7 linked regions of the Homo sapiens genome follow. The protein of the gene in region 6 purifies or fractionates together with the protein of the main gene of each other region. This does not show direct contact. Each region holds a gene or a part of one and is shown on either strand. Other genes may lie near its edges.

Region 1 (3,500 bases), on a different chromosome or scaffold from region 6:
AAATAAAACAAGGGCTGTACTGGTGGCTCACGCCTGTAATCCCAGCACTTTGGGAGGCTGAGGCGGGCAGATCATCTGAGATCAGGAGTCCAGCCTGGTCAATATGGTGAAACCACGTCTCTACAAAAAATACAAAAATCAGCTGAGTGTGGTGGTGTGCACCTGTAATCCCAGCTACTCAGGAGGCTGAGGCGGAAGAATCGCTTGAACCCAGGGGGCAGAGATTGCAGTGAACCGAGATTGGGCCATTGCACTCCAGCCTGGGTGACAGAGCGAGACTCCGTGTCCCAAAAAAAAAAAAAAAAACACCTTTTAAAGTTATCACCATCCCCCACTCCCACCCAGTAAGTAGAGCTTAGCCAGGTAAAAGGAAAGGGAGAAAAGAGAACTTTCTCAACTCACAGTGCTAGCCAGTAGGGGCATCAGGATGTAAACCACTGGACAGTTCTCTCTCCCTATGCAGTGGGCCCGGTTCGCTATGGAGACCTGCTGCCTTCCCTGGGACAGTGTGACGCATGGATGTCCTACAGCTCAGCAGTCCAGGAGTGGGCCACTATCTCCTCAGTGCCTACAGAAGACGGCCTGCACTCCTTCCCCATGGAAAGCACGCCCCTGGCTCACCTTGGTGGCATGAGAAGCGGTGAGTTCTCTGATGAGCTCTTCTAGGGCCCCACCATTCCGGCCACAGAGCACCAGTTTAGCACCCGCAGCATAGAAGACTTTTGCACATTCTAAGGGAAGAGAAAAGAGCCTTGACAGCCATTCTTCCTCAGTGCCGTTCAGTTTAAATTCACCCAGCGTTGCTGTTTGCTGCTTCACACCCTTCACAGGTCTGTGTTGGCCCCTGCTGTGTGGCCCAGCATGAAGCTGGGAGCTAGGGCCCAATGCCGGGCTCACGCCCAGTGCTACAAACATCCACAGGGCAAAGAGAAAGGAGGGCCGAGGTGGACAGATGTGTTAAGTATCATGCTCAGAACACCCCATGATGTTCCTGTTCACCTGGATCAGCTGTGAGCATCACCTATCTTCACAGCTGAGGGAGCTCACCAAGGTCACTCAGGCAGGGTCTTGTCCTGATTGGCAAGGTCAATGAGGGCCAGCTATTATGGTGCTGTGCCCTGCCAAGACTGTGTGGTGGCACTACCCAGGCACAGCTCTCCTGGAAATACTCACACAGTCCTGTAGAAAAGCTGGGGCAGGGGACCGAGGCCCTTCCCAGATCTGATGGGCTGTTTCCCAGGGAGTGCTTGAGGCAGAGGGAGCAGAGTGCCTGAAGGGCCACAGGCAGATAGAGATGGGACAGAAGGTGGAGGGTCTAACAACCTCACTGGCTGGGGAGGGGTCAAGTCAGTGCACGCAAGCACCTGCCACACGCAGGACTATTAAGGGTGCCTGCCTTTGAAAAGGCTCAGTCCTGCTGGGCGGGAGGGAGTGGGGACACTGGAGGAAAGCAGGCTCCACCAAGCCCACCACACTATTCCAGGTAACAATCGATGCGGACTTCAACTACGACCACAGCAGGGACAGTCCAAAGCTAGTCAGACACGTGCTCTATATTCTTTTGGTGGCAAGAAACAGAAACTAAACTCACACTGGGGCAAAGCAAAAAGAGAATTTGCCAGAGGGATTGTGGGGAAGTTCAAGAATGAAGAGGAGAGCCGGATGGCCGAAACCTAGGAGGGACCCAAGTGCTGGCTGCCCGGGTGCTCTCACGTGCCTGGGTGCTCTCACACGCGGGCAGGCCCCAGAGCTCACATGCACAGTTTTGTCTTGTCTCTTCCCAGCTCTGATCAAATCCCAGGGAAGGCCGTGATCAGCCTTGAGTGGGGGGCCCAGCAAGGGTCACAGGTAATTCTCCTGTGGCTAAGCAGGAGGGCCTGACGAGAAACCCCCTGGACGCAGCAGGGTAAACCATGAGAACTGGGGGTGGAGGACTACTCTATGAGGAGTCAGAAAGGAAACGGAGTGATGGGAGGAGAGGAGGCAGAGGGTGGCGTCGTTGCTTCTTGCTTACCCTCCCCTGCAACATATCCTATGTAAATGTTCAGTGCCCCAAAAATGTACATACAGCTTATGAAAAGCAGGACAGCCCAGCAGCCAAGAGAGTGGACTTGAGCTAGACTTCCAACTCCAGTAAGTTAGAACCTCTTTGTTTCTGACTTTCCTCTTATTTAGGATGCTTTTTATCTATCAAACACGGTAGTAAGAGACTACCTACCTTAACTCATTCAGTCCCTCGGGGTGTGACCGTGAGATTGAATGAGTTAAGGTAGGTAATCTCTTACCACAGTGTTTGATAAACAGCACTACAGCGGTGTCAATTGTCATTTTTGTATTTCTATTTATTAAAAATATTTTTTTTAGAGACAGGGTCTTACTCTGTTGCTCAGGCTGGAGTGCAGTGGCACAATTATAGTTCACTGTAGCCTCGAACTCCTGGGTTCCAGTGATCCTTCCACCTCAGCCTGCAGAGTAGGTGGGACCACAGATACTCGCCACCATGGCTGGCTAATTTTTGTATTTTTGTAGAGATGGAGATTTTGCCATGTTGCCCAGGCTGGTGTCAAATTCCTGGGCTCAAGCGATCTTCCTGCCATGACTTCCCAAAATGCTGAGATTACAGGCATGAGCCACTGTGCCTGGCCATATTTCTGAACTACTTTGTAAAAATGTTCTGGCCGGGCATAGTGGCTCATGCCTGTAATCTCAGCATTATGGGAAGCTGAGGCAGAAGGATCGCTTGAGCCCAGAAGTTTGAGACCAGCCTGGGAAACATAGGAATCTTGTCTCTACAAAAAATAAAAAATTAGCCAGGTGTGGTGGCGCATGCCTGTAGTCCCAGCTACTCAGGAGGCTAAGGTGGGAGGATCCCTTGAGCCTGGGAAGTCAAGTGAGCCATGATCACACCACTGTACTCCAGCCTGGGTGACAGAGCAAGACCTGTCTCAAAAAATAAAAATATGTGTAAATAATAATGTTCTAAAAACTGATGATGAAAACTGAAACATAGTTTTTTACTTTTTTTTTTTTTTTTTTTGATACAGGGTCTCGCTCTGCACCCAGGCTAGAATGCAGTAGTGTCATCATGGCTCTCTGCAGCCTCAACCTCCCAGGCTCAAGCGAGCCTCCACCTCAGGCTTCCAAGTTGCCGGGACTACAGGCACATGCCACCATGCTTGGCTAACTTTTGTAGAGATGAGGTTTCGCCATGTTGCCCAGGCTGCTCTAGAACTCCTGAACTCAAGCGATCCTCCTGCCTGGGCCTCCAAAAGTGCTGGGATTACAGGCATGAGCCACTGCACCTGGCCACATGCTGGTTTAAAGAGGCACTCCTGTCCTCACCTGAGGCATAGTCTCCCTTAAGTGCTCACCAGCAGATCTGCACAGGATACCTTGGCCCCTGGCTGACCCTGACCTGACACCAGTGAGCCACTGACTTGGTTCCAGACCGAATCTTAGAGGCCCAGGTGATTAGGTGGCACCCTAGCTCCTGGTTCATG
Region 2 (3,500 bases), on a different chromosome or scaffold from region 6:
GGGGTTTCACCATGTTGGTCAGGCTGGTCTCGAACTCCTGACCTTGTGATCCGCCTGCCTCAGCCTCCCAAAGTGCTGGGATTACAGGCGTGAGCCACCGCACCCAGCCAGCACCGGCTTATTAATGGTGAGATGTTAATGGGAAAACTGGGCCTGTGAGATATGGGAGCTTTTACTATTTTTACAATAATTCTGTAAATCTAAAACCATTCTAAAATTAAAAATTTATTTTTAAAATGCAATATATTTGTTTTCCTTTTAAAGCACTTCCCTCATTCTTACCCAACGGGACACACCTTCTCAAGTACTTAAGTAATTCTTTTTTTTTTTTTTTTTTGAGACTGAGTCTTGCTGTCACCCAGGCTGGAGTGCAGTGGCGCGATCTCAGCTCACTGCAACCTCTACCTCCCAGATTCAAGTGATTCTCCTACTTCAGCCTCCCGAGTAGCTGGGATTACAGGCGTCTGCCACCACACCTGGCTAATTTCTTATATTTTTAGTAGAGACAGGAGTTTCATGTCGGCCAGGCTGGTCTCGAACTCCTGACCTTTAATGATCCACCTACCTCAGCCTCCCAAAGTGCTAAGATTACAGGTGTGAACCACTGTGCCCGGCAAGTAATTCTTATGAACAAATTAGCCTTATAAAGTTGTCATAAACATTATGTGATGTGTGGCCAGGTTAGAGTCCTGTGTGACCCGGTCTGAGCTGGCCTCTGGGCAGCATGCCGTGTGGGGGCTGCCACAAGCTGATTCAGGGAGCACCGGCCTGGGGTGACGCACGCCTGTCGGGCGGAGGGCGGCCTGGGGTGACACGGATGGTGGCCTGGGATGACACGCGCCTGTCAGGCGGAGGGCGGCCTGGGGTGACACGCACCTGTCTGGTGGATGGCGGCCTGGGGTGACGCGCGCCTGTCGGGCGGATGGTGGCCTGGGGTGACGTGGATGGCGGCCTGGGGTGACGCAGATGGTGGCCTGGGGTGACGCGGATGGCGGCCTGGGGTGACGCAGATGGTGGCCTGGGGTGACGTGGATGGCGGCCTGGGGTGACGCGGATGGTGGCCTGGGGTGACGCGGATGGTGGCCTGGGGTGACGCGCACCTGTCTGGTGGATGGCGGCCTGGGGTGACGCGCACCTGTCGGGCAGATGGTGGCCTGGGGTGACGTGGATGGCGGCCTGGGGTGATGCAGATGGCGGCCTGGGGTGACGCGGATGGCGGCCTGGGGTGACGCGGATGGCGGCCTGGGGTGATGCGCGCCTGTCGGGCGGATGGTGGCCTGGGGTAACGCGGATGGCGGCCTGGGGTGACACAGATGGTAGCCTGGGGTGACGCGGATGGCGGCCTGGGGTGACGTGCGCCTGCACCGGGAGCAGCTTCCCTTGGCCAGTGCCCATGTTCCTCTTTTCATTTTTATCTTTTCTGGGGAGGGTAGGGGGACGTTTTACTGTCTTTCCACTGAATGTTATGACCCTCCCCACGCCCCTTGGAGGCACAGCTGAGGTGGGGCCTATGTCTGGCTCCAGGGGGCCCTGAAAGGTACTTTTTACACCTCCCACCCCTCAGCACTGAGAGACCTCGGGAGGGGTACCGGTGACAGGGACGCGGGCCCCACCTTGCTGAACCCAGCAGCGAGGGCATCTCTGCCTCTGTCCCTGGAGGCTGACAGCGGTAGTGTGGGAGCTGGGGCCTGGGTGGAGACCGGGTCAGAAACTCAGGTTTCGCCTGGGTGGGCCATGAATGTCCTGCCGAGGGTGAGACCCTCAGGGCTCTGGGTGGAGAGCAGCACCTGCCCAGAAGCAGTAGACCCTTGTCCCGGCTGCACCAGGGGCCAGCGACCTTGTGCCCTCCTCCATCCTGCAAGCCTCGGGCGGTGCTTGGCCTCACCTGCCTCTGTCTACTCAGGACTTTGAGGCCAGGCACTCCTGCAGGCAGAGAGGGGAATTTCTGAGACTGAAGTTGTTACTGGGTATTTTTTAACAGCGCTGTCTTAAAAAATAGATAGCGTGTCTCTGTGGCCCCGTCTATTCTTGCGGCCACACGAACGTGCGTGTGTGTGTGCAGCTTCCCTCACGGCAGCCAAAACCCAGAGGCCGCCCAGCGTGCGAACACGCCAAGGTGTGACTGTCGGCACGGCACTGCCGAGCCGTGGGAGGGACTGGGTGGTGCAGCGGCCAGTGGATCTCAGACCCTGAGCTGAGCACGACTGGAGAGGATGGGTGCATCCGAGCGTCTGCAGAGCACAGAGCGCGTCCGCAGAGCGGGTCCACACCTTGGGTGCAGCGAGCGGATGTGAGCAGTGTGCCTGTGACCAGGGCTGTCTGCACATCCGCCGGCCTAAGCTGCTGCTCACCGAAACCCACTGGGACTCTGGCTGAGGCCGGCCCCAAGGAGCTTTGCCGAGGAGGGAGCACCTTGCCCCTGCCCAGAGCGGTCCCTCGCATCCTCCTTCCCGTGAACCTGCATCTTTGGTTGCAGTTACAGCTCTCACGCTTCCATCTTATGAATCACAGGAGTCCCGTTGGTTTTGGATGAGTTGACACCAAAAAGACACAGGAGCTCTCTAGAGACACTTCCTGGGGGTCCTGCCGCGTTGGAGCAGGGAGGCAGTAGCTCCTGACGCCTTCCCTCCTACGTGGGCTTTGTGATCACTGATGGTCACATGCGGGGCATTCGGTGGCCTCTGTGTAGAGCCAGTGTCTTCCTGATGTGACACTGGGAACCACCAGCAGCCCAAGCACAGGGACCTTCTCCTGGCCACTGGGCGGGCTGCAAATGTGAGGGCGAATGTTGGGTGCAGGGTGGTGGAGGTAGCTGGGCCTTCCCTGCCGCGGAGGAGGCAAATGTGAGCGCGAATGTCCAGCCCAGGGTGGTGGAGGTAGCTGGGCCTTCCCTGCCGCGGAGGCGGCAAATGTGAGGGCGAATGTCCGGCCCAGGGTGGTGGAGGTAGCTGGGCTTTCCCCGCGGCGGAGTCGCCCAGCTCTGCCCGAGGCCCCTTCCTCCCGCCCCAGCATCAGGGGCTGTTCCACAATGGGTGTCTGGGGGTCCCTGCAGCCTCCCACCTCCCTCCTGGGAGAAGCCTGCACACACTGAGGGGCTGTTTGTTCTTTATTTGCAGAGGTATTGTGGCCAGTATTTTGGTTTTCTTATGTTTTGGAGTCACACAAGCTAAAGACGGGCCATTTTCCAGACCTCATCCAGGTAACTTGCCATTTCCTTTTCCGTGTGCCCCTGTGGCATTTCTGTTCTGAGCGGCCACTCTGTGTCTGTGCTGCTGGGTGTGAGTGTCCTGTCCTCCCCTCCGCCTGGCCCCTCCCCGAGGCCTCCGAGGCCACTTCCCACATGGACAAGGGCGTGGGGTTCTGAGCTGGCCGTGTGCTCCTCCTCCAACCACCGAGGGTCTCTCCAGGCCTTCTCTGGCCCTTTCACTCTTCCCTGTCCAGGGCTCTCCAGCCCTTCTCTTCCTGCTTCTGCCTCCTCTTTCCACAGACCAGAGTGGCCG
Region 3 (3,500 bases), on a different chromosome or scaffold from region 6:
CATGACGGCTATGAAACTATTATGAAGACCGTAGGTAGTAATGGTGACCCTCTCTTTTAATAACGTGTGAGTGCCAGGTGTATACTGAGTTCTGTTCTAAGTGCTTTAAGTTTTTAACTCCTTTAACCCTCCCAGCTTCCACTGTGAAGTAAATACAAATACTGTTATTATCCTCATTTTACTTATGAGGAAACAGAAGCCCAAAGAAGGTACGGGGCATGGATTTGAACCTACGCAGTCTAGTTTCAGAGTCTGTGCTCTTAATTACTATGCTATAATGCCTGTTTTAATGTACTGTAAATTTAAAATATACTGTACTTGTGTGGCATTAAGTGTAAGGGATTATTTCAATGAGTATGCCTTGTATTACAAGTTATGTCCAAAGTTTCTGAATATCCATGCTGAATGTAACTTACGGTAGCTACTTAGGGTGAGTCTGTCTATAATGTGGGAGATTTAAATGAGACATCCTTTTTGCCTTTTCCCCTTTCATGTGTTATAATGATTGTTTTGATAGTCTTGCATGTTCCATTATATCATTTCAAAATTCAGTAAAATATATTACCAGGTTTATTGTTTGTGTTATAATCATACACATAATGAAATTTTATGATGTAGTGCTCAACCTGGACAGTGTGAATTACTGGGTTAACATACTTCTTAATGAGAGTAACTGCAGATTTAAACTTAGGTTTTTTTATTTTTTATTTTTATTTTTTAATAGAGACAGGGTCTCACTCTGTTGCCCAGACTGGATTGCAGTAGCCTGATCACAGCTCACTGTAACCTTGAATGCATGGACTCAAGTGATCCTCCCATCTCAAGCTTCCCAGAGTAGCTGGTACTACAGGCATGTGCCACCGCGTCTGGCTAATTTTTTTTTTTTTTTGTAGAGATATTGTTGTGTTGCCTGGGCTGGTCCCGAACTCCTGAGCTCAAGTGATTCTCCCTCTTCGACCTCCCAAAGTGCTGTGATTACAGGCGTGAGCCACTGCACGTGGCCCTAGGTTGTTTACATTTTTAACATGGTGATTCATTAAGACCAATTGATTAAATTAAAGGAAGAATTATGTTTGCTTTGTTCACTAAGAATGGGAAGGCAGTGGAGAAGCAGGATGGAAATAATCTAGAGGACTCCAAGGAGTGCCAGAGTGACCTTATTTTGTTGAATTTATTTATGGTAGTAATGAAACCTATATAATTTAGCTTCTCTTTCCTTCAGAGAAGAATATACTAGAAGTCGGAGTTACTCAAGATTGAGTCTTCTTTTGCTAGGCTACTTGATAAACAGTTCTTGTCTGTTGAGTAGGCTAATCTTCAGGGAACTGAGTATACAGTGGATATAATTGGATCCAGTGGATATAATTGGATATAATTTCTAAAGCCGTATTTATTTCTCTTTTTATCTATACTTTCTTTAACTGTAAAAAAATTTAGGAGTGTTACGTTCTCATTTTGAATGAGGAACTCTGAAATTGTATCTGATTTTCTCTTTTGTATTTGTACTTCAGACTAGTCAAATATGTATGCCTTTTGCATACATATTTACTTGGAGATGGGGAGATATTTATACTAGCTTCCTCTGGCTGCCATAACAAACTACTGCAGACATCGTGACTTAAAATGACAGGCATTTATTTCTCAGCGTTCTGGAGGCCAGAATTCTGAAATCATTATCAGTCAGCCAAGATCACGGTGTCAGAGGGCCACACCACCTCTGGAAGATCTAGGGGAGAATCTGCTCCTTGCCTCTTCTAGCTTCTGGTGGCTGATGGCATTCCTTGTTTTATGGCTACATCATTAATCTCTCCCTCTATGGTCACGTTATGGCCTTCCTTCTCCACTTCTGTCTGCAGTTAGATCTTTGTCTTAGGCTGGGTGTGGTGGCTCACGCCTGTAATCCCAGGACTCTGGGAGCCTGAAACCATCCTCTGGGAGGATTGCTTCATCCCAGAAGTTGAAGACCAGCCTGGGAACACAGGGAGGCCCTGACTCTATAAAAAAAAATTAAAAAGTTAGCCAGATGTGGTGGCATGTGCCTATAGTCCTAGCTACTTGGGAGGCTGCGGCAGGAGGATCACTTGAGCCTGGGAGGTTGAGGCTGCAGTGAGCTGTGATCATGCCACTCAACTCCAGCCTGGGTGACGGAGTGAGACCCTATATCAAAAAAAAAAAAAAAAAAAAAAAAAAAATTGGAAGTGCTCCCTACGCTTCTGTTTTCTGGAAGAGATTGTGTGAATTGATCTTAATTCTTTAAACATTGGTAGAATTCTTTAATGAAATGTTCTGGGCCAGATTTCTTTTTCGAAGGCTTTATTCAATTTCTTTAACAGTTATTAGGGCTATTCACATAATCCATTTAATTTTGGGTGAGTTGTGGTAGTTTGTGCTTTTGAGGAACTGATCCATTGACACACAAAGTGGGTGTCCTCATTACTACTGGGCAAGTGTGGGAGTGTCAGCCCCTCTTTAGGACTCTACTGACACCACTGGGAGGGGATGGCCTTCTTACCCCTGGGCGGAGGTGAAAGTTCTGACTCTCTGCTAGGCCTCCTCTGATACCACGCCAGTGGGGATGAGAAGGAGTGTCTCATTACTGCCAGGTGGGAGGAGGAATCCAGGCTCTCCAGGTGGTCTCCACAGATACTCCCTGGCAGGGGAAGGGGGTCTTATTACCACCTGGCAGGGAAGTCTAGACTTCTCCAATATCACCCCTGAAAGGATAAGGGGTAGAGACACCTGGGAGCCTGAACAACATTGCAGCCTTGTAAGGGTGGAAACTTAGGCTCCCTACATGGCTTTTGCTGTTGTGGGTGGGGGTGGGCCACGGTTTTTTTCTGTGATATTGGCTGGAGGGCATGTTGTTTATTGCTCATTTCTTTGGCTTAGGAGAGCAGGGGTTTGTTTTTTGTTTTTTTGTTTTTGTTTTTAAGCTGGTTGTCTGTGGTATACGATGAGGCAAAAAGAAAACCCAGGGAACTCACCACCATATTTTCCATGGGTCCCAAGGTCCCTACCTGGTTTGCCTTATCTGTATCTTCAGAGTCCAGAGTCTTCCCATATTTGTTTACCTATAATGGCCAGGATTTTTGGTTGTACTTAGCTAGAGCAGTAGGAAAAACTACATTTACTTGATCTTGCTGGAAGCGAAAGTTGGACAGGGATTACTTCTTTATGGAAGAAAATACAGGGTGGAAATTGAGATGCATGAATTAGCCAGTAAGACACTGAAGGAAGCTAGTTTTGGGTTAGTTACTTGGAAGTGACAGCTTAACTATGTCTTTATTTCTCCAGAGAGAATTCTGTGGGTCATTGCTCAGTAAAACCAAACTCTCTTTAGTTTTAGATTTCTTAAGAGGTTTGACAGTATAGTGAATTACTTTATTTCTGCATTGAGATATAAATTAATAATATAATTTCTGGCTTAGTACCTGGTAGAGAAAAATTTATCTTTGTGAAAGATTAGTTTTATGGAGGGGATTAACTCCAGTTTTCTTTAG
Region 4 (3,500 bases), on a different chromosome or scaffold from region 6:
AGCACCCGCTGCTGAAAATCAACTGCTGCTGGAACGTAGAGGTCTGCTTTCATCCCCCGCCACTCAAGCCGCAGTTTCCAACGCGCTCACTCTAATTCTACCTGTGAAAGGGCCCCAGCCCCCCTTTTAGGGCACAAATCATGGGCTCTGAGTGAATCATGGGTCAAGGGCTAGTTGGCGTCTCTGCTCCCAGGTGGGCAGCTGAGGAAGGTGGAAGGTGGCTGGCAGCCCACACACTGAGCAGCCGCTTCGAGGTCCCCGCCCCCGTTAGCTGGTGACTGCGAAGGGACGGCTACTCACACTGCTTTGGTATCCGGAGGGCCTCACTGTCCAGCACCATCACCTGATGCAGGACGCCCCGGAACTGATAGAGCACTTTCAGGTTCTTCTCTTCCCCCACACACGGGTCATAAAAGCCAGGCAGCCCAGCCTGTAACAAACAAATTGCTACTCTCAATACTCCAGACGGTCTAAGACCAGCACTCCTCCTCACTACCACCGGAGGGGCAGTGTGCACAGGCTCTGACATTCCCTGGGGAGATGCAAACTTTGGGGCATGAAGAAAAAGAAACAAGAATTTGAAAAAGTTGCCAAGACTCGCTTCTTAATAAAGGCCCTATCCTCACACTAAGACAGGGCCACCAGATGACTTCTAGGGTGCCAGGAACTCTCTGGCCTGAGCTAACCTGCATTTTCATCCTTCTGTATGGTCCATGCCCCAGGCCCCAGAGGCAAGACTCACACATGTTACAAGTGACCTCATGATCTTTCTGGAATGAGGCAAAAATAAACAGAATCAAATGCCATGAAGGCAGGCGTGTGTTCTGTTTGCTGGTGTGACTGGCACACACCAGGGGCTCAGTAAATCCTTACTGAGTGGTGAAAGAAATGACTGAATGAAGAGAATAGCTCCAACGTGGGTACTACTCAGGAGCTGGGCAGCATCCCACACAGTAGATGCTGATGACGGCAAAGATCCCACTTTAAGGGGCCAGGCTGTCCTTGTCAGACTGAACCTATTCTTCACACCACTGTTTGTTTGTTTGTTTTGAGACAGGGTCTTGCTCTGTCACCCAGGCTGGAGTGCAGTGGCACAATCACAGCTCACTGTAGCCTCAACCTCCTGGGCTCAACCAATCCTTCCGCTTCAGCCTCCCGAACAGCTGGGACAACAGGTGTGTGTCACCATGCCCAGCTGATTTTTTCTCTTTTTTGTAGAGATAGGGTTTTGCCATGTTGCCTAGGCTGATCTTGAACTCCTGGGCTCAAGCAATCCGCCCACCTTGGCCTTCCAAAGTGCTAGGATTATAGGCCTGAGTCACCGCGCCCAGCCTGTTCAAATCTGTGAGCACATAGCATGTGGTGGCTGGTGCTGCTGTACCTTGGAGGCCTCCGTGAGGATGAGCTTCGAGTCCTTCACCAGGCACTGCAGGGGCACAGTCACGTCAATCACCTTCACCTTCTCGCTCTTCCTGCTCTTGTCATTGACAAACTTCCCGTACCAGGCATTGACGATGATGAGGCCTAAGGACAGACTCCGAGTAGAGGAAGGCCTCCTCCAGGCACCTCCTTGTGTGGCTTAGAGACCCCCAGCGCCCACCCTGGACCAAGAGAGGACACATGTTCTCACCCATTCTGGACTCTTCTGCCTCAATTATCCTTCGGACAGATTCCTGCATCAGCCGGACCTGCCAGAGAACAAGGATGACACAGTCAGGGCCCTGCCAGGCCTGTTCCACCTCTGGTGAGAGGGCCACAGGCAGGCAGTCTTGTCCACGTCAACATACTTGCTCAGGGCCTGGAAAGGAAGGGAGTGGGCACCCTGACAGCTCTGCTACCCGAGTGGCTCACTCTGAAACTCCTAGACCTAGGGCAGGCAGCTCTGGGTCAGAAGGTGAGAAGCACCTGAAACGGCATGACCCTCCGGTGGCCACCGGTGGGAGCTCCCTTTCTAGGGATCATTAATGCGTGGGTGGGATTTGTTGACCCAATAAAAAAACAATGCGTTGTCAGCTTTAAAAATAAAGAGATTTCACAGGAGAAGCTGGAATCCCAGCTCCTCTTGAGAAAGGACCTGTGTTCTCCTGTGGTGCCATTCTGCTGGGCATAGCTGTGCCGCCCCCTCAGACAGGCATGTGCTCGCCAGGCCGCGCACACGGCCCATGGCCACCTGGCAGTATGCTCGCCACATACCCAGGAAGCCTGCTCCCTCCTGCTCAGTAAAAGGCAGAACACTCAGAGGGAAGAAAAAGAGGCCAATACTCACCACTTTAAAAAAGCCCTTGTTAGGCCTTTGGAGGGTAATTATCTTCAGGGCAGGGACTGCAGAGCCCAGTGTCGCATCCCACAATAAAGACTAAGTGGAGAGCCAAGTTGTTGGAGAAGAGAAGTCTGACCTCTAAGGCCCTGAGACCAACATGTGGGGTGTGGAGTGTGTCCCCTACAGCCCTCGCTTGGGAACGGTGGGGCAGCACTCACAGCGGACTCCGCCTCTTGCTTCTTCTGCAGCACATCGGTGGCGGCGCTTTCCCTCTGCTTCTCCAATTCCCTTACGCGAGAGGAACACAAGCCCCACGTTAGCGCGGCGCTGCCCAGCTTCCAGCCAACACAGCCCCTCCCGTGCTGGACCCGAGCCCAGCAAACAGTCTGTGATCTTACTGGAGTTCAGTTGTAGAACTTTAAAAAATATTCCCACGACAGTCTCAGGCAAGTCTGTTAGTCACAGGCTGGCAGCTTTCATTTTATCCTTAGATGGCTCTGCCCCACCTCCTCACCAAGCTGACGGGACACCGACTGTCAGTCTCTTTGGAAAGAAGACCCCACCACAGGAGAATTTCAGGAGATCCCACCAACCTTGTGGGATTATTATTTTTTTAATTTTAATTTTAAGATAGAGATGGGGGTCTCACTATATTGCCCAGGCTAGTCTCGAACTCCTGGGCTCAAGTGATCCTACTGTCTCGGCCTCCCGAAGTGCTAGGGTTACAGGCGTGAGTTGTTAAATAACACTTTTGGTAGGAACAACTAATACCACTTTAGACACACAGATCCGCTTTCCTGTAACAAAGTATGGGCCTTGGGGTCAGCATATGCCTGTCCTCCCTTCTGAGAGAAGGCTGGGCCAGCACATGTCTTGTTCTAAGCCTCAAGCCTCCTAGGGAATTAGGATTCTGAGTCCAAAGGCCAGACGGGCCCAGAAGAGGAGATTCATTCCTTTATCTGAGATTCTCTAAGTGCAATGCTTTACTAAATGAGATATTATAAAGTAACAAATCTATACCAGCTCTCAGTTTTCTGTAGAGATGCTTGCACTAATAATTTAGGTTTCACGGCATGCCCCAATGGATTATCTAAGAAACTGCAAAAACGTTGTGTTTCTGTGACTTTCAAGACTCTAGTTAACGCAGGCCCCTCACATACGGATCCAGAACGCATTCCTCTTAAACTCAGCGCTGGGAAAGGAGAAAGGAAAACTTCTTCTTTCTTGAGGCCATGGTTTA
Region 5 (3,500 bases), on a different chromosome or scaffold from region 6:
CCAATGCAGAGAACCAGCACAAGATGCCCATGTGCACAGTGTGACGCAACCTGCATCACACTGGGTGGTGGGAAAGGTGACGCCACACACCCTCCCCAGGTTCTGCCTCATGGCCCCGTTGCTCTCTAAATGCCCAGCAACAGTGTAATCACCCATATTCCATGGAAGAGAGAAAGCACACCACCGTGGCACACGATGTGCCACTGCTCTCAAGGAATGGCCTCACATCGTGGCCCAGCTGGGAAGCCCCAGCAAGGACACAAGCCTTTATCTCATCTGAACCTGGGGAAAAGCAACCACTGGGAAGGAAGAGCTCAACAGGAGGCTGTCCAGACCTCTGAGATGAGACGGAGCCGTGGTGGGACTCCCAGGGCAGGGTGTGGGTGTGGGGCGTGGACCCCAACAGCAGCAGAGAGGTAGACTGCAATCCATACCCAAGACAGACACCAGAGGTGTTCTGACTTGCTTCTAAAATGAGAGCTGTGAGCCACTCACTGGCCTGAGATGAGCAAACCAGCCCAGCCATGGGCTGCGGTCTAAGCCTCCCCCAGTTGCAGGACCTGCATTTAACATGCTCATCTACGTGCACAGCCCACGAGATTGAGGCAGTGTTTAAAAGTCTCTTTGAATGAGTCTGCGACTCTTAATTTGAGTGTCTGGGTCAAGAGGATTAAAGAGCAAAAAAGAGAGAGAAGGTGGGACAGGCAATTCACACCTCCTTCCCTGCGCAAACATGGTGACGAAACAGACACAGCTCTTGGCTTTGGGGAAAAATATGCAAAAATCTAGGTACTGCCTTCTGAACTGAGCACACCTACTGCTTGGCTGTCCTGGTTTTCAAAGGCAAGCCTGGTCCACACTGAAGGCTGAAGTCAGGCTGATGCAGTCTCCTCTAAACTGGCCACCATTTAATGAGCATCTGTTTGGACTGAACACTGAAAAAGCCACGTTTAAAGACAAGGCCCAACATTAACCTTATTTCCTACATGCATGTTGGTCACAACTACTTCAACTTGGCCACTGGAACCATGTCATGCCACTCTAGAACACGTCCCAGAGCCAGTGTCCCCTCAGCACAGCAGAGAAGAGCCCTCAACACAGGCAGGACACACAGCACCCCAGGACAGACAAGAGCAGCCGCACTGCAGGCACTAAGGCCATTGCTGGTAGCCAGCACACAGGTGACCTGTGTAAACACGGCGAGCACATAAAACTTGTGACAGTCCCCCTCCCCCCCATTAGAGAACTGCGACAGCAGAGCCAGAGGTGGCTGTTGACCTGGCAGGCTGCAGGAAGAAGATGACAGTTAGCTCACCTCTGTGGCCAAGCTTCTCATTAAGTCTCTCCGAGAACCGCGCCATCAAGCAGGATATGGTTCATAAGCAGTGACAGCATCTGAGGGGCTTAACAGGAAGACTGATATTTCTCTCAAAGGGGTGGTTATTTTAGACGACTGAAGGGGATTTTAGAAACGTAATTAATTATATCCACCCTGAGATGACTTCCTGGGCATCCAGTGATCACTGTCACAGCCACCTGCAGCTCCCACGCCACACAGAAAACTCCACTTTCTCTTCACACTCAGGACAGAAAGAAATTGAGGAAAGCAGCTTGCAAATTCGTGGTGAATGTGAACATCGACGAAAAAGGCAGGTCAGATTTCCTTGATCACCAAGGACTGGGGCTGCCTTGTTCAAAGCCCAACTCAGGTCCCACACATCCTAGAAACAAGCACCTGCGGCCCAGCGGCTTCCCTCACATCAGCCTGTCAGAGCTGGCTCGAGCTCACTGGCTCACTGCAGCTCCAGAACTTCCCCGAGCCCCGCTCCCATGCTGCTCTATAGGTTCACACTGCACCCTGCAGGGCCAGAAAGGATGTCGCCAGCCCAATGTGGGAGATGATGGCCTGGCTTTACTAAAAAACTGTGTGATCAAAATCCCAACTATAGGAAAGACGTAACTGAGAACGACTGGGCCCCATGTTCTGGGAGGAGCCCCGCTAACCACAACCTCCTCTGCTCCTCGCCCGCACTCCCCTGAAGAGTGAGTTTTAACCTCCCGTTAAGATCATCACACAAAGAAAAGTGAGTCAGCTCCTCTTTGCCTTCTCTCCCCACTCCTTCATGATATAGGGCAGGGTATGACAGAGCCTGCCACTGTCACCAGGACTTTGCCACACCAGTCACCAGCATGGTGTTCATCGGGACCCTCACAGTGCCTGTGCCACCTGCAAGTTCAGGGGTCCTCAGGCCTATCCTTGCTTCCCCAGCACTTCAACTAGGGCCGAGGCCAGCTCCTAGGGCCCAGGACTAGCTCTGCCACTCTTGAGGACAGGTTAAAAACACCAAAGGTCACACTGGAGAGGAAGGCCCCATGCAGCTTTTCTGTCACCTTGGTGATGAGCCACCAGGCAGAACCCATTAAGTGCTAATATTGCTGTTTATGGGTATAAACTGCTTAGAAGCTACATTTTACAGAGTGTCTAATAGGCAATGAGGAGCAGCTGCAGGCATGGACATTAGTTTGGATTGCTGAGTTCATTAGTTTCTGGACCCTTCCCATGGCTTCCAAATGCCAAGCTCCTGCATAGAGCACGTCTCAGCAGTTTCTACAGAGCATGGCTCCTGGGAGCAAGAGGACACTGTCCCTGGCTGCCAGAGCAAGCAGCTTGATGCCAGAGGCAGAGAGACAAGAGATGCAACTGTGGGGAGCCTGCCAGCAGAAACTAACCAGACTGCTCGTCCCCGTGGACCAGCCTCTGCAGGCCAGAAGGAAAGATCAGTCAACCAAGCAGTGAGGAACCCAGCCTTTGGGGTAACAGGATGCGGACTCAGTCTCCAGGCCACCACAAGCCAGTGCGGCCAGCCAACCTCCCTCTGCCCATCTGAAGATGGTGACGCTCTGGCCAACCTCCTACAGTCAAGAAGTTCACAAAAGGAATGTCTATCATGGACCCGGCCCAGTGAAAGACTTAATGTCATTGTCATAATACTGGAAGACACTGGGCCTGGGAAACTAAGCTTACTTAGGTCTTGCTTTCAGCAGCCCACACTTTCTGGTCAAATCTTGTCACTTCAGTTTTGCTCTTGTTTTCTGAAGATGTGAAAAAATGGATGTGTCACTTTATCTGATCAGTGACTTCCATGGTAATCCTCTATCGGCTTCAAATTAGGTCATTTTCATGTAAAAGCCTGGTCTGGCAGCTTTAAGTACTATGTGAATAAAGAGAAACAAAGCCCCACCTGGGCTTGGTCAGATTCTGTCCACAAGAAGCCATATTTTGACTTCGAACCCTGTTTACTTGCCTGCATCTGTCTGATTGGGGTTTGGGCGAGTACAAGTAGCTGCCCTCCCAAGCTGCCCACAAAAGGGCATGGAAGCTCCCACAGCCATGCTCTGCCACCACCTAGACGGACTCTTAAGGAGATCATCTGACGGCGGCAGCCTGCGCTGCCTTACAGATATGGTGCCTTACAGATATGGTCCTAACCCACTTGGGT
Region 6 (3,500 bases):
GGAATGCCACCTGGCGGGAGGAGGAGAGTGTGGGGAGCCAGGAGTATGGCTCCTCAATTTACCCAAGGCGGAAGAGGATCAGTGGGGCGCTCATGGGAGGCTGTAAAGCCCTTTGATATCCAGGCCAACGGGTCACCGCTTTCTGCTCAGTCCTCCCACTTTTGGGGTTCGTGTTCCTGGATGCAGAGCATGCCAGGTTGAAACAACACGGACTCGCACCGAGTCCCTCCTCTGTCCCCTGCTCTGTTTGCCTCTGGTCTCAATGTTCAGGCAGCTCTGCTGGGAGCGGCAGGCCCACCCTCCTTGGGGGGCGGCTCCTGGCCGCTTCTCCGAGGCCCACCTGGTCTTCTGTGGTTACCGGTTGGGCCAGGCACTGGGCTCATGGCTGTGGTATGCTTAGTCCAGCAGGAGAGATGTGATGTGGACTGAGAAAAGTGCATTCAGCGAGGGCAGTAACCCAAGCTGGACGAGGGACTCACCCAGGAGCTCTGGGGCCAGACAGGAGGGGCCACTCGTGGGACTATCAGGGAAGATGAATAACGATGAAGGTAGAGTGGACTAGGAAAGCAGCAGGAATAGACCTGTGCAGATGGAGGGGCCAGGCACTGCAGGGTGTGGGGGCCCCTAACAGCAGAAGCAGGGGCACAGTCGGGGGCAATGGGCAGTGCATGTGGATCAAGGCGACTGTGGGGTTCTTAAATATTGGGCTCTGCAGCGTGAGCAGAAGGGACTCGTGTTTAGATTGGTATTTCAGAAAGCTCCCTGACCCCGTGCAGATGGTGAGAGACTTCAGTGATATTTGGTGGTGGCTGAGGGACAGAGACCAGCTCCAGGTGCTCCTGGCCACTCCCTCTCCCAGCACAGGGTATCTGCTAGTTTCTTTGTTGACTTGGGCTTGAAGCACAGTTCTGGCTGTGGCTCCTGGTGGTGTGGTGCAGGTGGCTTTACTGTCCAGTGGCACAGCAGGGCGCTTGGCATAGAGGCCCAGAAGAGTGGAGGGTCTGTTCTGTCTGGGGACCCAGAGAAGGAGGCTTCCCAGGCATAAAGCAGAAGGCATGCCCTGCCATTGCATGTTGATGTTTGGACTTTATCTGGGCAGTAGGGGGGCAGAGGTGTGGGCTGGCCAGGAGGTGTCTGGGATTGGAAGCTTCCTGGGCATGTCAGCCCTGTTGCCCCTCACTCAGGTGCCACCACACGCCATGTAGACAGTAGGCCCTCTCCATACGTCTTGTTTCCTCTGCACATCTCCCAAGTGGGAACTGCCAACTCTAAGGTCTCCCAGTTTTCTCAGCGATGTGCTGGCTGCCATCTCTCAGGAAAATTGGCTAAGAATGGTTTTGCTGTGAAGACACACCTGCTAATCCCTGAGGAGTGAGACCGACATATTGTGAGGAAGCCCAAGCCAGCCTTGTAGAGAGACTTGTAAAAAGAGAGAGGGAGAAATAAGAGTGAGAGGGAGAAATGAGAGTGAGAGAGAGAAAGAGAGAAAGGAAGAGAAAGAGAGAGAGAGAGAGAGAGAGAAAAAGAGAGAGAGAGAGAGGCACAACAGCCCCAGCTGGTTCAGCATTGCACAGGACAAATGATGGAAGAAGTTATCTTTGACATTCCAGCTCCAGCAGATGTGACATAGACTGGAAGTGATGGACCCAGACAACAATCAGAACCAAAGCACCAGATGAGCCACCTCAGCCACGTGAGCCATGCCAGCCACCCTACCTGTGACCCCATCTGTGGCCCCAGTTATCATGGAGTAGAGGTGAGCCGCCTCCACTGAGTTCTGCCAGAATTTCCGAATCACAAAGTTTTGAGTATAATCAAATGATTGTAGCCTTACATCACTACGTTTTAGAGTGGGCTGTTATGCAGCCATGCAAGGTTAACTGGAAAAGCAGCTAATTCAGTCATCTAGCCACCTGAGGTTTTTGGCATAGAAGTCTCTGTGTCTGGCCTGACGCCTTAGAGTAAACATTATATTGTGACTCCTCAGGAGTAAGCATTTCTGGGTCCTGCAGCACCTGCCCCATAGCCTTGGAGATTCAGGCTCCTAGGAATACAGATGGTGTCTGGGGACTTCCACTGGGTCATGGAATCCTATTGGTGGTTTTATAACTTAAGACTTCATAGAGGATCTGTGGAGGAGAATCCTGTATCATCCAAAGCAGGTCCCTCCCACAGTTGCATTTTGCAAACATTCCCAGTAGAAAAAGTAAAGAAAGCAAGAAGTGAGATTCCTTGCTGCAGGAATTTTGTGAACCGTATCCAACACTCACCCCAGAGAGCCATGTTGGGACTGGCTGTGGAAGCTCCTAGCCTGGTGTGCTAACTGGACTGTACTGGGAACAAAATATTTTTGGAAGGTATCACAGTTCCACATGACATAGATATAGGACCCCAAAGTGTTTTCACACAGGGCCTGGAGTTTCCCAAAAGTTTTTTTTCCAGGGGACTGTTCTCCAGAATTGGCAGGAGGTGAACATGAAGTGTGGCCTGAAATTTAGTGGGGGCTTGAATGAAGAATGGGATTGTCACAGGTAAGAAGGAGCTCCTCTCCAGTCTGCTGAGCGTCTGTTCCCGGAGACTGCACAGGTGGGCCCCCGCCCTCTCAAAGGCCTCACTTCAACCTGTGGATGAGGACAGCCCACTCCTTGTTTTGTGGAATTGGACCTTAGGTTTCTGCCAGGTTTCAGATTTAGGCGGGGCTCTCTGTTAAACACAAAGAAGTTATGGCACCCGGATAACTAGGAGCAGAGTGGGCCCAGAAGGACACCAGGGCTCAAAATTAGGGAGGCACACCTCCTAAAATTACAGAGGTGCTCATTCATTAAGGAGGTGTTCTCCCTAAGACTAAGAAGATATTTGCCATTAAATTAAGGAGGTGTTCTACAATGAAGGAGGTGCTCCTCTTAAAATTAAGGGGGCCCTCATTGTAATTTAATGTGGCCTTCAGTCTAAGCCCAAGGTGGTACTCCCTCCCTCAGGCGCAGTGTAGGCCCTTCGTGGGCCCTGAGAGTGGTAGCTCTGGCCCTGGCATCTAGAGATTTGGGAGGCCCAGAGTCTGAGGGCTTCTAGCTCCTCTTGGAATTTAGCCTGCGCTCTGGCCTTCCATACTTCTCACAGGGCAGTGGGGCTGGTGTCTTGGAAGCTCTGCCTTCACAGGGTGCTAGTCCAGTGTGGAAGTGGTTGGCCTGAATCAGCAACTCACTGGAACAGATACCCCCAGGGCATTACCCTGAGCTGGGACCAGGGACTGAAGAGCTGATTTTTGGATTAGCTGATCAATGATCAGGAGCCAATCAATGGAGACAAACAATGGGACAAAGGCCCTGCTACCCGCAGAATCAGAGCCTCATGACACCAAATTCTCTACAAGAAATAATCGCCCTGAGATGTGCTTCAGTCCGGCTGTGCTGTCTTTCCTGCCCAGGTGGAGGGGCAAGGGAACACTGAACAGCACTGCTTGACACGGCCATTAGTGGCCTTTGACTCCTTCCATCCCTCCC
Region 7 (3,500 bases), on a different chromosome or scaffold from region 6:
TATTGTTTGTTTTTGAACTTTATGGTAGTAGGAGGTACTCCTTATAATTTTTGTTTGTAAACATATACTTCTTGATTTAATCCGCCACCACTATGACCACCATCATGCACGGATTCACCAAAAACTGGATAAATAATTATGTTGCTTTTATTAATCTTTCTTAAATGTATAGCTCATGTTGGCTGGGCATGGTGGCTCACGCCTGTAATCCTAGCACTCTGGGAGGCCGAGGCAGGCGGATCATGAGGTCAGGAGATCGAGACCATCCTGGCTAACATGGTGAAACCCTATCTCTACTAAAAAAAATACAAAAAATTAGCCGGGCGTGGTGGCGGGTGCCTATAGTTCCAGCTACTCAGGAGGCTGAGGCAGGAGAATGGTGTGAACCCAGGAGGCGGAGCTTGCAGTGTGCCGAGATCTCGCCACTGCACTCCAGCCTGGGTGACAGACTGACTCTGTCTCAAAAAAAATAAAAAATAAATAAATAAATAAATAAATAAATGTATAGCTCACATTTGTTTCGGTTTTTTTTTTTTTTTTTTTTTTTGAGATGGAGTCTCGCTCTGTCGCCCAGGCTGGAGTGCAGTGGCACAATCTCGGCTCACTGCAACCTCCGCCTCCCAGGTTCAAGCGATTCTCCTGCCTCAACCTCCCAAGTAGCTGGGATTACAAGCGCCTGCCACCATGCCCAGCTAATTTTTATATTTGTAGTAGAGACGGGGTTTCCATGTTGGTCAGGCTGGTCTCGAACTCTTGACCTCAGGTGATCTGCCTGCCTCGGCTTCCCAAAGTGCTGGGATTACAGGCGTGAGCCACAGCACCCGGCCTGTTTTGGGTCTTTATTTAAAAGTCTGGTGGTGTTTTGGGGACCGGAAATATGCTGTAGGAACTTAACTCTTACTCATGTCAATTAGCCTATGGTAAAACTGGCTTCAGTGTATGTTGTTTCACTTCAAGTTGCAGTGTGTGTTGTTTCACTTCAAGAACCTACCAATGACATTAAGTGAGGGCCTAGTGTTAATAATTTGTTCCTTTTTATAGCTGCGTCCATTGGTGGTCCATTGTATGGATGCACCAGTTTGTTTATTCACTCACCAGTTGAAGGACAGGTGGTTTCTAATTTGGGAGGACAGTGGATAAAGCTGCTGTGAACATTTGCGTACAAGTGTTTGTGTGAATGTAAGTTTTCACTTCTCTTGGGTATGTACTTAGGGGTGGGACTGCTGGGTCATATGTTAAGTGTAAGTTTAACTTTTTTTTTTTTTTTGAAACGGAGCCTTGCTCTGTCACCAGGCTGGAGTGCAGTGGAGCAATCTCGGCTCACTGCAACCTCCGCTTCCCGGGTTCAAGCAATTCTCCTGCCTCAGCCTCCCCAGTAGCTGAGATTACAGGCGCATGCCGCCACACCCAGCTAATTTTTAGTAGAGATGGGGTTTCACCATGTTGGCCAGGATGGTCTCGATCTCCTCACCATGTATGTGAATAAATACAAAACAAAATCTACATGCATAAACAAGACACACATCCATCTACACATGCACTGAGCCCCCTCAGCGCATCTAGCCAAGGCTCACAGCAGAGAGGCCTCTCACCAGGACCTAGACTGTGGCCAGCTCAACATTAATAAAAACTTGATGGGCGTTATTTCCACTAAGGCCTTAGCAGCACCTGGAGAAGAACAGCTGCTTCTCTCCTCTCACCAGCACACAGAAGTTAAAGTAAAAAGACACGAGCACCTCGGGTCTCACGCCAGACTTTCAGGACATCGTGCTTAGAAACTACAACCAAGCAAGCATGGATTCCTCTGAAACCTGGGCATCCTGAGGGGGAGAGAGGATTCTTGCTCACACACCTCTAATGCCTGCAGTTTTAACTTGCCTAGACAAGTGGGGACCTAACCATTTTTAAGTAAGCTCATTATTTCCTGAATACTAGGTTCCCATCATTTGGTAATGAAGAATCCATTATAAGTGACTCAAATTTGCTTTTTAGTAAAGACCAGACTCACATACTGCTTTGTCTCCTTTCAACAGTGCTTATGAAAATGCTCTTGAACACAAAATGTTGGGGGGAGGTTGTTTAGGTGCCATACCAATAGGATTCAGTTGAAATATTACTTCCTTGGGTATGCTAATAACCAAATGGCCTAGAATAGTGCCTGGTGCACAGGTGCTCAGTATTTGTAGAAAGAAGGAAAGAAAGAAAGAAATCAGACTCCTATTACATATCCTGAGAGCCCCTGTTCTTTTTTTTTTTTTTTTTTTTCAGACAGGATCCTGCTCTGTCACCCAGGCTGCCAGGCTGGAGGGCAGTGGTGCAATTACGGCTCACTGCAGCTTCAACCTCCAGGGCTCAAGCGATCCTACCACCTTACCCTCCTGAGTAGTTGGGACTACAGGAGTATGCCACCATGCCTGGCTAATTTTTGTATTTTTTTTTTTTTTTTTTTTTTAGAGACAGGGGTCTAACTATGTTGCTCAGGCTGGTCTCGGATTCCTTGGCTCAAGCAATCCACCCACCTTGGCCTCCCAAAGTGCTGGGATTACAGGCGGGAGCTACTGGGCCTGTTTCATGTTTTTTATATCCATAGGTTCGCAACTCTTATACTTTTCCTTTGTGGCACCCATCATAAATCGCAGTCATTTGTACTGCCATGATCTGTGTACTCTCCCACACCAGCCTAGAGACTTCTGCTTATTTTCTGCCGCATCCTCAGTTCCCAGCTCTGTAGGTGTTCACAAGCATGAATTCAACACTGTGCGAAAGAACTGAAGCTCACGTAGTCCACAACTTCCCCCAGTGTGGGGTGTGTGCCACCAGTGCTACACAAAGTGTTAGGTGGTGTGCAAACATTTTGTATTTTAATAGTTATACACTAGTTTTAATGTGAATTAGAAAAAATATAAGAAAGACAACAAAGGTGTTATAGATACTAATAATTAGGACAAGTTGAAAGGTTTAAAAAAATACGTTACTAAGTAAATGATGGTATAGAGATCATTTAAGCACGGCAAATGTAATAAAAATGACACACACACAACAGTTTAAGTAAAACTGACTCAGTGGCAAAGAAAAAAGATAGAAGCCTATAGACAGTTCCTCACACAGCAGCGAAATGAGACACTGCAACTAGGAGTCCTGCTTTCGTTCCTTGTTATGTACCAACTTGCTGGATTTCTCTGGGGACTCTGTAATTTCCCACGGCTTGAAAATATAATAGTTACCGCTCTTACTTACAGAGTTATCAAGAGCTTTAGATTTATCATACTTAAGGAACCTAAAATAAAAAAGTTCTAACTTCAAAGTATTTTAATTAACTACTGTTTTGAAACCAAAAATGTATGCTTACTGATAGCTCGTTTAGTCCCAGTTATATATACAAGGTGGTCTGAAAGTTTTAAAGTCAAGAACAGCATATTAAGACATTATTTTTGGAGCATTTTAATTAAAAATACACAGCTGACATAAATTAAGTGTCCATAGACCTGTGCACTGTAGAT

Evidence for each region.
Region 1: the proteins of TMEM72 (region 6) and DHRS7B purify together in Homo sapiens (affinity purification with mass spectrometry; one large-scale study listed by BioGRID and IntAct). This does not show direct contact.
Region 2: the proteins of TMEM72 (region 6) and PTDSS2 purify together in Homo sapiens (affinity purification with mass spectrometry; one large-scale study listed by BioGRID and IntAct). This does not show direct contact.
Region 3: the proteins of TMEM72 (region 6) and LCLAT1 purify together in Homo sapiens (affinity purification with mass spectrometry; one large-scale study listed by BioGRID and IntAct). This does not show direct contact.
Region 4: the proteins of TMEM72 (region 6) and DNAJC11 purify together in Homo sapiens (affinity purification with mass spectrometry; one large-scale study listed by BioGRID and IntAct). This does not show direct contact.
Region 5: the proteins of TMEM72 (region 6) and SURF4 purify together in Homo sapiens (affinity purification with mass spectrometry; one large-scale study listed by BioGRID and IntAct). This does not show direct contact.
Region 7: the proteins of TMEM72 (region 6) and KDELR2 purify together in Homo sapiens (affinity purification with mass spectrometry; one large-scale study listed by BioGRID and IntAct). This does not show direct contact.

The regions. Positions count from the first base shown.
Region 1 is NC_000017.11:21,175,464-21,178,963, reverse strand, and holds part of DHRS7B (dehydrogenase/reductase SDR family member 7B), read right to left. Parts: intron 732-3,500; coding exon 622-731; intron 1-621.
Region 2 is NC_000011.10:470,779-474,278, forward strand, and holds part of PTDSS2 (phosphatidylserine synthase 2), read left to right. Parts: intron 1-3,116; coding exon 3,117-3,199; intron 3,200-3,500. UniProt on the Homo sapiens protein: Catalyzes a base-exchange reaction in which the polar head group of phosphatidylethanolamine (PE) or phosphatidylcholine (PC) is replaced by L-serine. Catalyzes the conversion of phosphatatidylethanolamine and does not act on phosphatidylcholine.
Region 3 is NC_000002.12:30,453,746-30,457,245, forward strand, and holds part of LCLAT1 (lysocardiolipin acyltransferase 1), read left to right. Parts: intron 1-3,500. UniProt on the Homo sapiens protein: Exhibits acyl-CoA:lysocardiolipin acyltransferase (ALCAT) activity; catalyzes the reacylation of lyso-cardiolipin to cardiolipin (CL), a key step in CL remodeling.
Region 4 is NC_000001.11:6,635,817-6,639,316, forward strand, and holds part of DNAJC11 (dnaJ homolog subfamily C member 11), read right to left. Parts: intron 2,549-3,500; coding exon 2,479-2,548; intron 1,689-2,478; coding exon 1,631-1,688; intron 1,525-1,630; coding exon 1,382-1,524; intron 431-1,381; coding exon 301-430; intron 1-300.
Region 5 is NC_000009.12:133,369,561-133,373,060, forward strand, and holds part of SURF4 (surfeit locus protein 4), read right to left. Parts: exon of another isoform or gene 1,362-3,500; coding exon of another isoform or gene 1,316-1,361; intron 1-1,315. UniProt on the Homo sapiens protein: Endoplasmic reticulum cargo receptor that mediates the export of lipoproteins by recruiting cargos into COPII vesicles to facilitate their secretion.
Region 6 is NC_000010.11:44,921,337-44,924,836, reverse strand, and holds part of TMEM72 (transmembrane protein 72), read right to left. Parts: intron 1,757-3,500; exon of another isoform or gene 1,611-1,756; intron 1-1,610.
Region 7 is NC_000007.14:6,470,653-6,474,152, forward strand, and holds part of KDELR2 (ER lumen protein-retaining receptor 2), read right to left. Parts: intron 1-3,500. UniProt on the Homo sapiens protein: Membrane receptor that binds the K-D-E-L sequence motif in the C-terminal part of endoplasmic reticulum resident proteins and maintains their localization in that compartment by participating to their vesicle-mediated recycling back from the Golgi.